2 separate regions of the Homo sapiens genome follow, and region 1 is linked to region 2. The links come from fine-mapping of genetic effects on plasma protein levels. A gene starts in region 2. The other region holds a variant in brackets. All regions are shown on one strand. Distances are between the middles of the regions.

Region 1 (5,379 bases), 12 kb before region 2:
CTAGATAGCAGAGGTTGAACCCTTGTCTTGTGATTCCAAGTTCAGAGCTCTTTCTACTACACCCAGTACCTTAATAGGTTTGATAATGATCATTCCAAGTAACAACTAATTAAAGCAATACAAATGACACTCTTAAAACATAAATTTTCTTTAGTAGAAACTGCAAGTGGAAGTCAGTAAGAGCTGCTTTTTTATAGGCAGGAATATTGTGCTGCTAAGCTTTGAGTTAAAAGTAGCAAAATCAAAATGGTGAGAAATATGTGTGCCCCTGGTTTAGAGATTATTTTTCTAGTGGAAGGCTTAGATTTTTAATTGTACAATATCCAGGTGAAATTTTTACTGCAGAACTCACAAACAAACCTGGCTCAAATTTATAGTCCCCTAAGTAACACTACAACAGTACAGCTGCTATTTTATTTTTTCTCACAATTTTTTTTTTTTTGTGATGGAGTCTCGCTCTGTCGCCCAGGCTGGAGTGCAGTGGCGCGATTTCGGCTCACTGCAAGCTCTGCCTCCTGGGTTCATGCCATTCTCCTGCCTCAGCCTCCCGAGTAGCTGGGACTACAGGCGTCCGCCACCACACCCGGCTAATTTTTTTTTGTATTTTTAGTAGAGACGGGTTTCACCATGTGAGCCAGGATGGTCTCGATCTTCTGACCTTGTGATCCGCCCGCCTCGGCCTCCGAAAGCGCTGGGATTACAGGCGTGAGCCACCGCGCCTGGCCTTTTCTCACAATTTAAGTATTTTGATTCTGATTCTATGTTCATGTGCTGTCTTAAAAGGTTTCTTAATTTTTTTTTCATGCATGTAATATGGGATATTTCCTTTCAGACTTTAAGTCCCTGGGGAAGCAGGGTCTATTTCTTTTCTTTTTTTTTTTTTTTTTAAGAGACAAGGTCACACTGTTACCCAGGCTGCAGCACAGTGGTTCGATTATAGCTCACTGCAGCCTTGAACTCCTGGGTTCAAGTGTTCCTCCCACCTCAGCCTACCAAGTAGCTGGGACTATAGGTGTGCACCACCACCATGCATGGCTAATTTTAAATTGTTTTTGTAGGGATGGCTGTCTTGCTATGTTGCCCAGGCTGGTCTAGAACTCCTGGCCTCAAGCGATCCTCCTGTGTTGGCCTCTCAAAGCACTGGGATTACAGGGGTAAGCCACCCTGCCCAGGCTACTTCTTTTAAGTTTCCTTTCACAGTGCTTAGTTTACTTATAGAAGGAAAACAATGTAGAAACTGAAAACTGTGTACATTAGTCATTTAAAGTGTACTTACTTTGGGTAAAGCAGCAACTTGGTAAGCAGCTCTAGCAGGAAAATTACTCTTGAAATCTGAATTTAAAAGAATTTCATTTTTTTAATAGAGAAGAGTTGAAAAAATAAAGATCAAGTGAAAATTTTTATTTTAGTTTTCAGATATTCTATTGTTATTCAATATCTACAATTAATAATCTGGCAAATATTTCATATACTAGTCAGTTCTTAGATATAAGCAACATTTATTTTTATTTTTTTGAAACAGAGTCTTGCTCTATCGCCCAAGGCTGGAGTGAAGTGATGCGATCTCAGCTTACTGCAACCTCTGTCTCCCATGTTCAAGAGATTCTCCTGCCTCAGCCTCCCGAGTAGCTGGGATTACAGGTGTGCACCACCATGCCTGGCTCATTTTTGTATTTTTAGTAGAGTCGGGGCTTCACCATGTTGGCCAGACTGGTCTCAAACTCCTAATGTCAAGTGATCCACCCACCTCAGCCTCTCAAAGTGCTGGGATTATAGGTGTGAGCCACTGCTCCTGGCCTTAAGCAACATTTTAAAAAAGAGGCTCACTATCAGATTTGTTTGATAAAATATTTTGCCATATGATTCCTATGATAGTTAATACTTTTTAAAATCTCTTAGCTTTCTGGCAAAAAAAAAAAAAAAAAAAAAAAAGAAATACATACCCTAACATTTTGATCTTGTTTGATGTGAATGGAGTTTTGTTTTTAAAGTGATATTTATAAACTATTTATCTAAATAGGGAACAAGTGCCCATCTCCAGAAATTTTGGCAAGTACTTCCTCTGCCAACTTTGGTCTTTTCTAATAATTTCTTCAGGAGAGAATAAGTAACGATGCTTTTTCCAAGTTATACCTTTGCCTCATCCCATTAGGTGTTGGGGACACCAATTTTCCCTACTATAACATCAATGTTAATAATAGCTAACATTTACTCAGTGCTTATAACACACCAGCATCTAAGTGCTTTACATGTTGTACTGACTCATTTAATCATTCCAACAACCCTATAAGTTAGGAGTATATTATCTCCATTTTGCATATGAGAAAACCAAGGCATAGAAATATTAAGTAACTAACTAATGAGTCTGAGAGAGCCAGGATAAAGATGGTGGCTGCACCATACAGCCACAGTAAATAAAATCTATGCATAAAAAACTTGTTAGGAGAGTTTAAAAAGCCTGAGAAGGATTTAATGAAATTAAGCTTTTGAAAAATGGATATGTAGGATTTCAGTATATTGTTTTAGGGAATGCAATAGAAATGTCTTAGAACTTTTTCATGGGGGGTATACAACATATTTCCAATCAGATTATTAATTCTTTTAAGATCTATGACCATTTCTTTAGCATCTCCTACCACTCTTAATTCATAATGCACATTCATTAATGTGACCAGATTTCTTTCTTTTTAAAAATGGAAAATAGGAATAAAGCCAAATTACTTACACTGTTTGTAGATTTCATTGACAGTATTGAAGTCATTTATGTCAGCCAGAAGAACAGTTGTTTTCACCACTAGAAGATATAAACATTGTCATTAGGTTTAGTTATTTGGTCTGACCCAAAACATTACTTAGAAAAAGAGTGTATGAATCTGAGACTGTCTTGATTAAAATGGGACTGAAATGGGACCAAAGAAGTGAAGTAGAACAGTTGCTATTTAAAACAACTTTTAAATAGCAACAAAGATATGGCACGGCATCTTACTGGATGCCATATATTTTTCAAAAAGACCAAAGAAATATCAAAAAGAAATGTGAAATAATATCAAATTGCTCACCGTTAGTGAAGTCACAGCCTGCAGCTTTCAGAATTTCACCCATGTTTTTAAGAGCCTGTGAACCAAGCCAAGAAAGGCCTAAGTCACTGATGTTAGATTTAAAGCTTTAATTAAATTCAATT[A/C]ATCATCTTTTACTAATACCTCCTTAAATAGCCTATGTTGCAGAAAAATCCTCCCTACTCGCTTACAAGTGTGTTTCTTGGCTTTCCTTTAATAGAATGAGTCTTTCTGATATATGGTGAAAATGTTGTCTCCTTTTGTGCGTAAAAAGACTAGGTTGAAGTTCCTTCTTCAGTGCTAAAATGTGTTAATTGTTCAGCCAATGTCCACAGAAATAATTTCTGGTGTTCTTCATTCGATATCACGTCAAGGATAAGGATGAGCTAGTAAGCATTAAAACATATTTTCTTTTAAAGCAATATTTGACTTCAAAGGGTTCTTTTTCCTTTTTCTCAAAAAAACAATATTAGTAAATTATATAACAGTTGGAGACACTGGCTTCTGGAAAAACATTTATCTTTTTTTGGATTCACTCTTCCCACTTTGCTGGTCACAATGCAATATTTCATTATATTCTTGTGTCTTTTAAAATAATCTTCTAAATAGGTAATACATGGATATGGCAACAACAACAACAAAAAAACTCAAAAGCTATTAAAAAAGCATATACCGTGTAAAGATATCTCTCACCCCTCTCTCCCTCTCCCAAGTTTCCCTCCTCAGAGGTAACCACTGTTCCTAATTTATTGTATATCCTTCTAGGTACAGTCAATGCTTATGTTACATATTTTTAAACACACAAGCACACATGGTAGCATACTGTGCATGTTGTTCTGCATCTTGGTTTTATTACCATGGAACAATTTACCTCGGAGATCTTTCCACATTACTTTAGTTGTATTGATCTAGCATAATTTATTCAACCAGTTCTTTATGAGTGGATATTTAGGTTTTTAAAAATCTTTCAGCTAGGCCGGGTGTGGAGGCTCATGCCTGTAATCTCAGCACTTTGGGAGGCTGAGGTGGGTGGATCATGAGGTCAGGAGATCGAGACCATCCTGGCTAGCACGGTAAAACCCCGTCTCTACTAAAAATACAAAAAATAAGCCAGGTGTGGTGGCGTGTGCCTGTAGTCCCAGTTACTTGGGAGGCTGAGGCAAGAGAATTGCTTGAACCTGGAAGACAGAGGTTGCAGTGAGCTGAGATCACGACACTGCACTCCAGCCTGGGCGACAGAGCAAGGCTGTCTCAAGAAACAAAACAAAACAAAACAAACTTTCAGCATTATATGACTCAGTAAATGCAGTAAATTATAGTTTATTGTTTTATTTTATTTTATTTTTTGAGACAGTGTCTTGCTCTGTGTCCCAGGCAGGAGTGCAGTGGCACGATCTTGGCTTCCTGCAACTTCCACCTCCCAGGTTTAAGCGATTCTTCTGCATCAGCCTCCTGAGTAACTGGGACTACAGGCATGTGCCACCTGACTGGGTTACTTTTTTTTTCTATTTTTTTTTTGAGACAGGGTTCTTGCTCTGTTGCCCAGGCTAGAGTGGAGTGGCACAATCTCAGCTCACTGCAACCTCCGCCTTCCGGGTTCAAACGATTCTCATGCCTTAGCCTCCCGAGTAGCTGGGACTACAGGCACATGCCACCACACCTGGCTAATTTTTGTATTTTCAGTAGAGACGGGGTTTCACCATGTTGGCCAGGCTGGTCTTGAACTCCTGACCTCAGGTGATCTGCCCGCCTCGGCCTCCCAAAGTGCTGGGATTACAGGTGTGAGCCATTGTGCCTGGCCTCCCCCAACTAATTTTTGTATTTTTAGTAGAGATGGGGTTTCACCATGTTGTCTAGGCTAGTCTTGAACTCCTGACCTCAAGTGATCTGCCAGCCTCGGCCTCCCAAAGTGCTAGGATTACAGGTGTGAGCCACATCGTGCCTGGCCTAAATTATGGTTTAATTATATTTATTGGATTAAAATTATATTCCCCATTCTTATTTTTAAAAATGTTGACTTTTTACTTCTGTGGTGGTAATTTTTTTTTTTTTTTGAAGAGGGGCAGGTCAGTGGCCCTGAGAAGAAAATTTCCCAATCCATGTGGAAGTGGCAACATGTCATCTGACGTCAATAATTCAGGTTTAAGGTCACCTTAGTGTTAAGGAGGTGGAATCTCTCTTTTGGTTGTTAGATGATTCATGATCCATCAAATTTCCAACTCTTAGATCAAAAACTATGTTAAATCAAGCAGTAAGTAGTTTAAAAAACATTTATCTGTTAATCTCTATAAAACAAATCAGGCAAGTGGATTCTTAATGCTCT
Region 2 (5,379 bases):
GTATTTCTCAAAGGAGTCAGTCATACACAGTAAGACTTATACACAGTCTTACATAGTAAGAAAATGATTCCTTTTCCAATTTTTTTTTTCAATCTACACCAGGGACAACAAAGTAAATGATTAAGACTAGGCTCTAGTACCCATTTCCTAAATTCAAATTTTGTTACATCACTTTTTAGTGGTGTAACTTTTGGCAAATTATTTAATTTTGCACACATCAGTTTCTTCATCTGAAAAATAGGGACTATAATATAACCATGCACATAAATAACTTAGAACAGTGCCTGGTGCTGGCCAGGCATGGTGGCTGACACCTGTAATCCGAGTACTTTGGGAAGCCGAGGTAGGTGGATCGCTTTAGGTCAGGAGTTCAATACCAGCCTGACCAACACAGTGAAACCCTGTCTCTACTAAAAATACAAAAATTAGCCGGGTGTGGTGGCACCTGCCTGTAATCCCAGCTACTTGGGAGGCTGAGACATGAGAATCACTTGAATCTGTGGGGTGGAGGTTGCAGTGAGCTGAGATTGCACCACTGCACTCTAGCCTGGGCAACAGAGTGAGACTCTGCCTCCAAAAAAAAAAAAAAAAAAAAAAAAAAAGGGATAGTGCCCAATGCTGCTGAGTAAGCATCAGTAAATGTTAGCAATGATGACTCTACCCCGTTTGATTACATTAAGGAGAAAAAAAATCATCTTTAGAAAACAAATTAAAACATCACTTGAAAGTTTTTAATTAAACTTTTTTTTTTTTTTAAATAGAGATGGGGGTCTCACTATGTTGCCCAGGCTGGTCTTGAACTCCTGACCTCAAGCAATCCTCTTACCTCGGCCTCCCACAGTGCTGGGATTACAGGCGTGAACCACAGTACCCGGCTAAAGAAACATCACTCTTAACAAAGAGAGAGCAGGCCTCAGGTTTTGAGCCAACTGCAATATCTAGCTAAAATTTAATAATACCTTTTTTTAATTGAGTTTATTTTTTACTATTACTTTCTATTGAATTGTTTTCTATTTAGTGTACTGTTGTAAAGTTTCCTTTTTCAATTAACTTGTTAAATAAAATGAAGTGAGCCATCTCAAAGAAATAGGTTAAGTAAATTATAAGTGATATACAGATTTGGCAAACAAACAAACAAAAAAGACAGAAGTAGCACTTGAATTATGAAAACTTTCTCCCCAAAATCTTTATACCATGCATTCTTCTACCTCCATGCCCTCACTCAAGCCATTCCCTCTACCTGACTTCTACCTCCATGCCCTTCACTCAATGACTTCCTGTTGAAATCCTTAATAAATTAATTTAAAAATCAAACTTTACAACACTACTATAAATGACAAAACCAACCTTCAAAACCAAAGGACTACCTCTCACAAGGAACCTTCCTAAATCTTCTTTTTCCTCTTCCACCCCAAGTTAAAATCAATTTGTCTTTTTTCTCCTTTACTCCCTACCCCACTTGCCCTCTCACTTCTACTGCATTTTATTTATTTCCAAGTTTTCTATAATAATTCCTGTTCTGCCACATCTCAGTGCCTTTTCTCACAGCAGTAGGTTTAAAGGAGGGAGCTGTTGATGGGGCTCTTTTCAGTTGGGAGAGAGGCAGACCAAGTATGAAGCTAATGAAAGAAGTTGGTCATAAAGGACTGCATGTTTTATGATTCAATTTATAGGAAATGTCCACAACAAGCAAATCCATGAAGATGCAAGTAGATTGTCAGGGGCCGGGGGAGAGGAGAATGGGGAGTGAATGCTAATGGGGATGGGATTTATTTTTGGGGTGATGAAAATGTTCTGAAGAAAGTGGTGATGGCTGCACAACTCTGTGAGTATGGTCAAAACCACTGAATTGTACATGTTAAAGGGGGTGAATCTTACGGTACGTGAATTATATCTCAATAAAGCTGTTACCAAGAAAACAAAAACGACCCCCTCCCCCAAAACAAAACACAGGGTCTGAAGGCTTCTAACTGGGGAGAGCTTTCTGGCAGGCTGTGCTCCGCAGCGAGGCAGCCCCAGAACGAGCAAAGTCCCATGGAGTGCAGGTTCCTGGTCCCATCGTGGCTCCCAACTCTCTGTGGGTCTTCGGGCGCGTTGCTTACTTTCCAGGCTCAATTTCCTTGCGTGTTAGCTGGGGCTCCGGCCCGGAGTGGCCCCAACCCCGAATCCCCGAACCCGCACGCCCTGGGTCCGACACAGCTTCCACCAGCCACGTTACCTGTAGGGTCCAATGGCCCCTGGGGCTTTCGCGGTGCTGATCACCCTTCTGATCAAGGACGACATGGCTAAGCCTTCCCTCTTGCAGCCCCTTCAGGAGAAGAAGCCCCAGCACCAGCCCTGCTGGCTTCTTACTGGACTGACCAACCACAGCAGCGCCTCTGCCCCACAGCTCCCGCTGGGGGCGGGCTCGTGCGGCATTCTGGGAACTGTAGTTTCGGCGACGCTCCAGGCCACGTGGAGGAAGCGCCCGGTCTGGCGCATGCGCTCTCCAGCGCGCTCTCCAGGAGCTTTGGCTCGGTGGGTACTGTCGCGGAGGCTTGTCATTCTGACCCGGGGATTCCTCACAGCGTCTGGCAGGTTGGTCGTGAGGGGCTGGTGCCTTCCAGGATGCGAGTGTCGGGGGAACTGTATGCGGCGGCCCCCCTCCCGGCGCCCGTCTCCCCTCTTCATCGTTTCTCTCTCAGACTCCGCTGACCTCTTTCCTTGCTGCCTGTGCCCGGGGCCCCTCTCCCTGGTGTCGCATCTCCTTCGGCCCCTGCGCTGGAGCCCCCTACGTCAGTCATTTCCCTTCATTGCCCCGCCGGGTGGAGGCCGTCCTGGGAATGGGCTTGCATCCCCTCTTCTGCAACCCCAAATGACTAATATGGGTCATTCTGGCGACCACGCTGAGATCTGGGCGTTGGTCCTCCCGTGTTCCCTTTCCTGCTCCTCCTGTGTTCCCTTCTCTAGGGTGCTCCTCGGGCTTTACAAGGTCACTGTCTGAACAGAGCCCTAGTGATTGGGATATCATTTCAGAAAGAAAGATGGTGATCTGGAATGGCCCAGATCCCTTGTAAGTATTCTGCTGTGTCAGAAGGGGTGGTACTTGGCTAAATATTTCTTATCCTGTTAATATTTGCATTGTAAGTACGCTTCGTTTCTTCATTTATGCGGGCACTCATAGATATATGAGTCCCTACTTTGTGTAAGGCACTCTGCTAGATGCTAGGAGGAATGCAACAGTTAAAAAAAATAATAATAAAATCTCTGCCTTCCCTGCTTCCTAAAGATAATACAAGAAAATCTGCTTTATTCCCTCTCATTTTGTCCTACATACTGCTAAGGTTTTGGCCTTCCTACTTCCGGCTCAGGAACCTTCTGATCTTTTTCATTGGTTTGGGGCCTGGAATAAAAGACCTTTCAGTCTGGCCTCCCCTTGCCTATTCAAGTTTCATTGTCATCTACTCCCTTTTCCCACTAGAGTCCTCCTGTATTCACACTGTGGATTCCTGAATACTCTTTCTTCCTTATCTGTGCAAATTCCAGCTAACTGAAATTCTATTTTCTCTTTGACTTTTCCTACCAATTCACATTTTTTTCTTTTTCTTCTTTCCTTCCTTTCCTTTTCTTTTTCTTTGTTTTCTTTCTTTCAAGACAGGATCTCACTCTGTCACCCTGGCTGGAGTACAGTGGCATGATCTTGGCTCACTGAAACCTTGACCTCCTGGGCTGAAGCAATCCTCCAGCCTGAGCATCTCAAGTAGTTGGGATTACAAGTGCACACCAGCACGCCCGGCTAATTTTTGTATTTTCTGTGGAGACGGGGCTTCTTCATATTGGCCAGGCTGGTCTCCAACTCTTGGGCTCAAGCAATTCTCCCACCTCAGCCTCCCAAAGTGCAGGGATTACAGGTGTAACCATTATGCCCGGCCTCATTTTTTTTCTTTCCCTTGTCCTGTTTCCTATTGTGCTGTACCGCATAATTTAGTATTTTATTATATGAGATCCTATTTTCTAATTGTTATGTGTTTCAAGAATAGTGGATTGGAGAGGGAAGGGGTGGAAAAAAAAAAAAGAATAGTGGATAGAGTCAGACTGCCTGGTTTGAATCTCAGCACAATCACAAGCTTAGTAGCCTTGGACTGGTATATAAAATCTCTGTGCTTCGATTTCTTCATTTATAAGATGAGAATAATACTAGTGACCACAGAGTTGTGAGAATTAAATGAATAAGTCATGTAGAATAGTGCCTGCCACATCAAGTTCTCAATGCTGCCTAAGATGACAAAATTCTTATTCTACTTTGGAATTATACACAGCCTGAAACTATTGGGCACATAGTAGGTGCCCAAAAGTTTATTAAATCTGATTAAACTAGATAATTAAGACATATTTTTATTTACAAAATAATTCACCATTTAAGTTTTTAAATAAGAAGCTATTTTGGAGCATTACAAATGATTCAACTTGTGTAAAATATTTCTTGTGAAACAAGGTACCTTTATTCTTAAGACAGATTTTATATCAAGTCTGAATCACCAACTTTTTAGATCTGGAAGAAAATAGACATCATCTAGTTAGTTCCCAGGTTCTCAAACTGGGAACTAACTAACACCAAAGGTTGTGTCTGGCCAGAGGATACTAAGCTGTATCAGAAAACATAACGTATCCATTTTATTTGAAGATTTGGCGAAAATATTTTTATAAAGGCAGCACATATTTAGTGCTTATTAAAGTTTGACAAAACTGACTTGAAGGTGAAGGTAAGAGTTAAGATTCCTTCTGGAAACTTTTTTTTTTGAGACAGGGTCTTGCTCTGTCACCCAGGCTGGAGTGCAGTAATGTGATCAAGGCTCACTCACTGCAGCCTTGACCTCCCTGTCTCAAGCGATCTTCCCACTTCAGCCTCCCGAGTAGGTGGGACCACAAGCTCATAACTATGCCTAGCTTATTTTTTGATTTCTTTGTAGGGATGAGTTCTCACTATGTTGCTCAGGTTGGTTTCTCCTGAGCTCAAGCAATCCTCCCGCCTTGGCCTCCCAAAGTGCTGGGATTATAGATGTGAACCACCACACCAGGCCTCTGGAAACTTTTAAATTAAATCCTCAGACTTCATAAAGATGCATCCTATATTCATTCCCTTCTGCTGTTAGAGGACCACTGCCAGTTTGATTTCCTCATATTTTAGTCTGGACCCAAAGCTCAGGGATGTTCCCAAGGTTATCCTAATCCTCCAGCACCAACCTTTTCTTGGACCATTCTAATACTGAGGGGAGCTAGAGTTTCTATGGTGTTCTTGTCTAGCCTTGCTGGTGAGTTCTGATTCAAGCAGGTAACAGTAGGTTAACTAAGTTGTTTTGTAAAATATTTGGAATGGCTTTTAATGCAGACCGATCTGAA

Direction of the effects. Positions count from the first base shown, and alleles are read on the strand shown. Strength reflects both the effect of a copy and how common the allele is.
For the plasma level of the protein whose gene starts at base 2,358 in region 2, A is the high allele of the variant in region 1 and C is the other (moderate association).

Evidence for each region. A credible set is the group of variants that fine-mapping cannot tell apart. PIP is the chance, under the fine-mapping model, that this variant and not a neighbour inherited with it causes the effect. Protein levels are from antibody-based Olink assays in UK Biobank. Linkage for the fine-mapping came from a reference panel and not from the study's own genotypes, which makes the PIPs less certain.
Region 1: its variant is the best candidate, but not a certain one, in a credible set for the plasma level of the RIDA protein (UK Biobank, PIP 0.71).

Annotation. Positions count from the first base shown.
Region 1 is chr8:98,103,213-98,108,591 of GRCh38, forward strand. It overlaps RIDA (reactive intermediate imine deaminase A), which reads right to left. Exons shown (of 6, transcript NM_005836.3): 3 at 3,060-3,114; 4 at 2,726-2,794; 5 at 1,277-1,332. Among named protein-coding and RNA genes, the nearest start is that of RIDA, 11 kb to the right of the region's middle. The variant A/C (reference allele first, on the strand shown) is at 3,182.
Region 2 is chr8:98,114,814-98,120,192 of GRCh38, forward strand. RIDA (reactive intermediate imine deaminase A) reads right to left here and starts at 2,358. Exons shown (of 6, transcript NM_005836.3): 1 at 2,219-2,358. The coding sequence starts at 2,283. It overlaps POP1 (POP1 ribonuclease P/MRP subunit), which reads left to right and starts at 2,480. Exons shown (of 16, transcript NM_001145860.2): 1 at 2,480-2,577. RefSeq lists enhancers at 2,463-2,512, 2,583-2,752.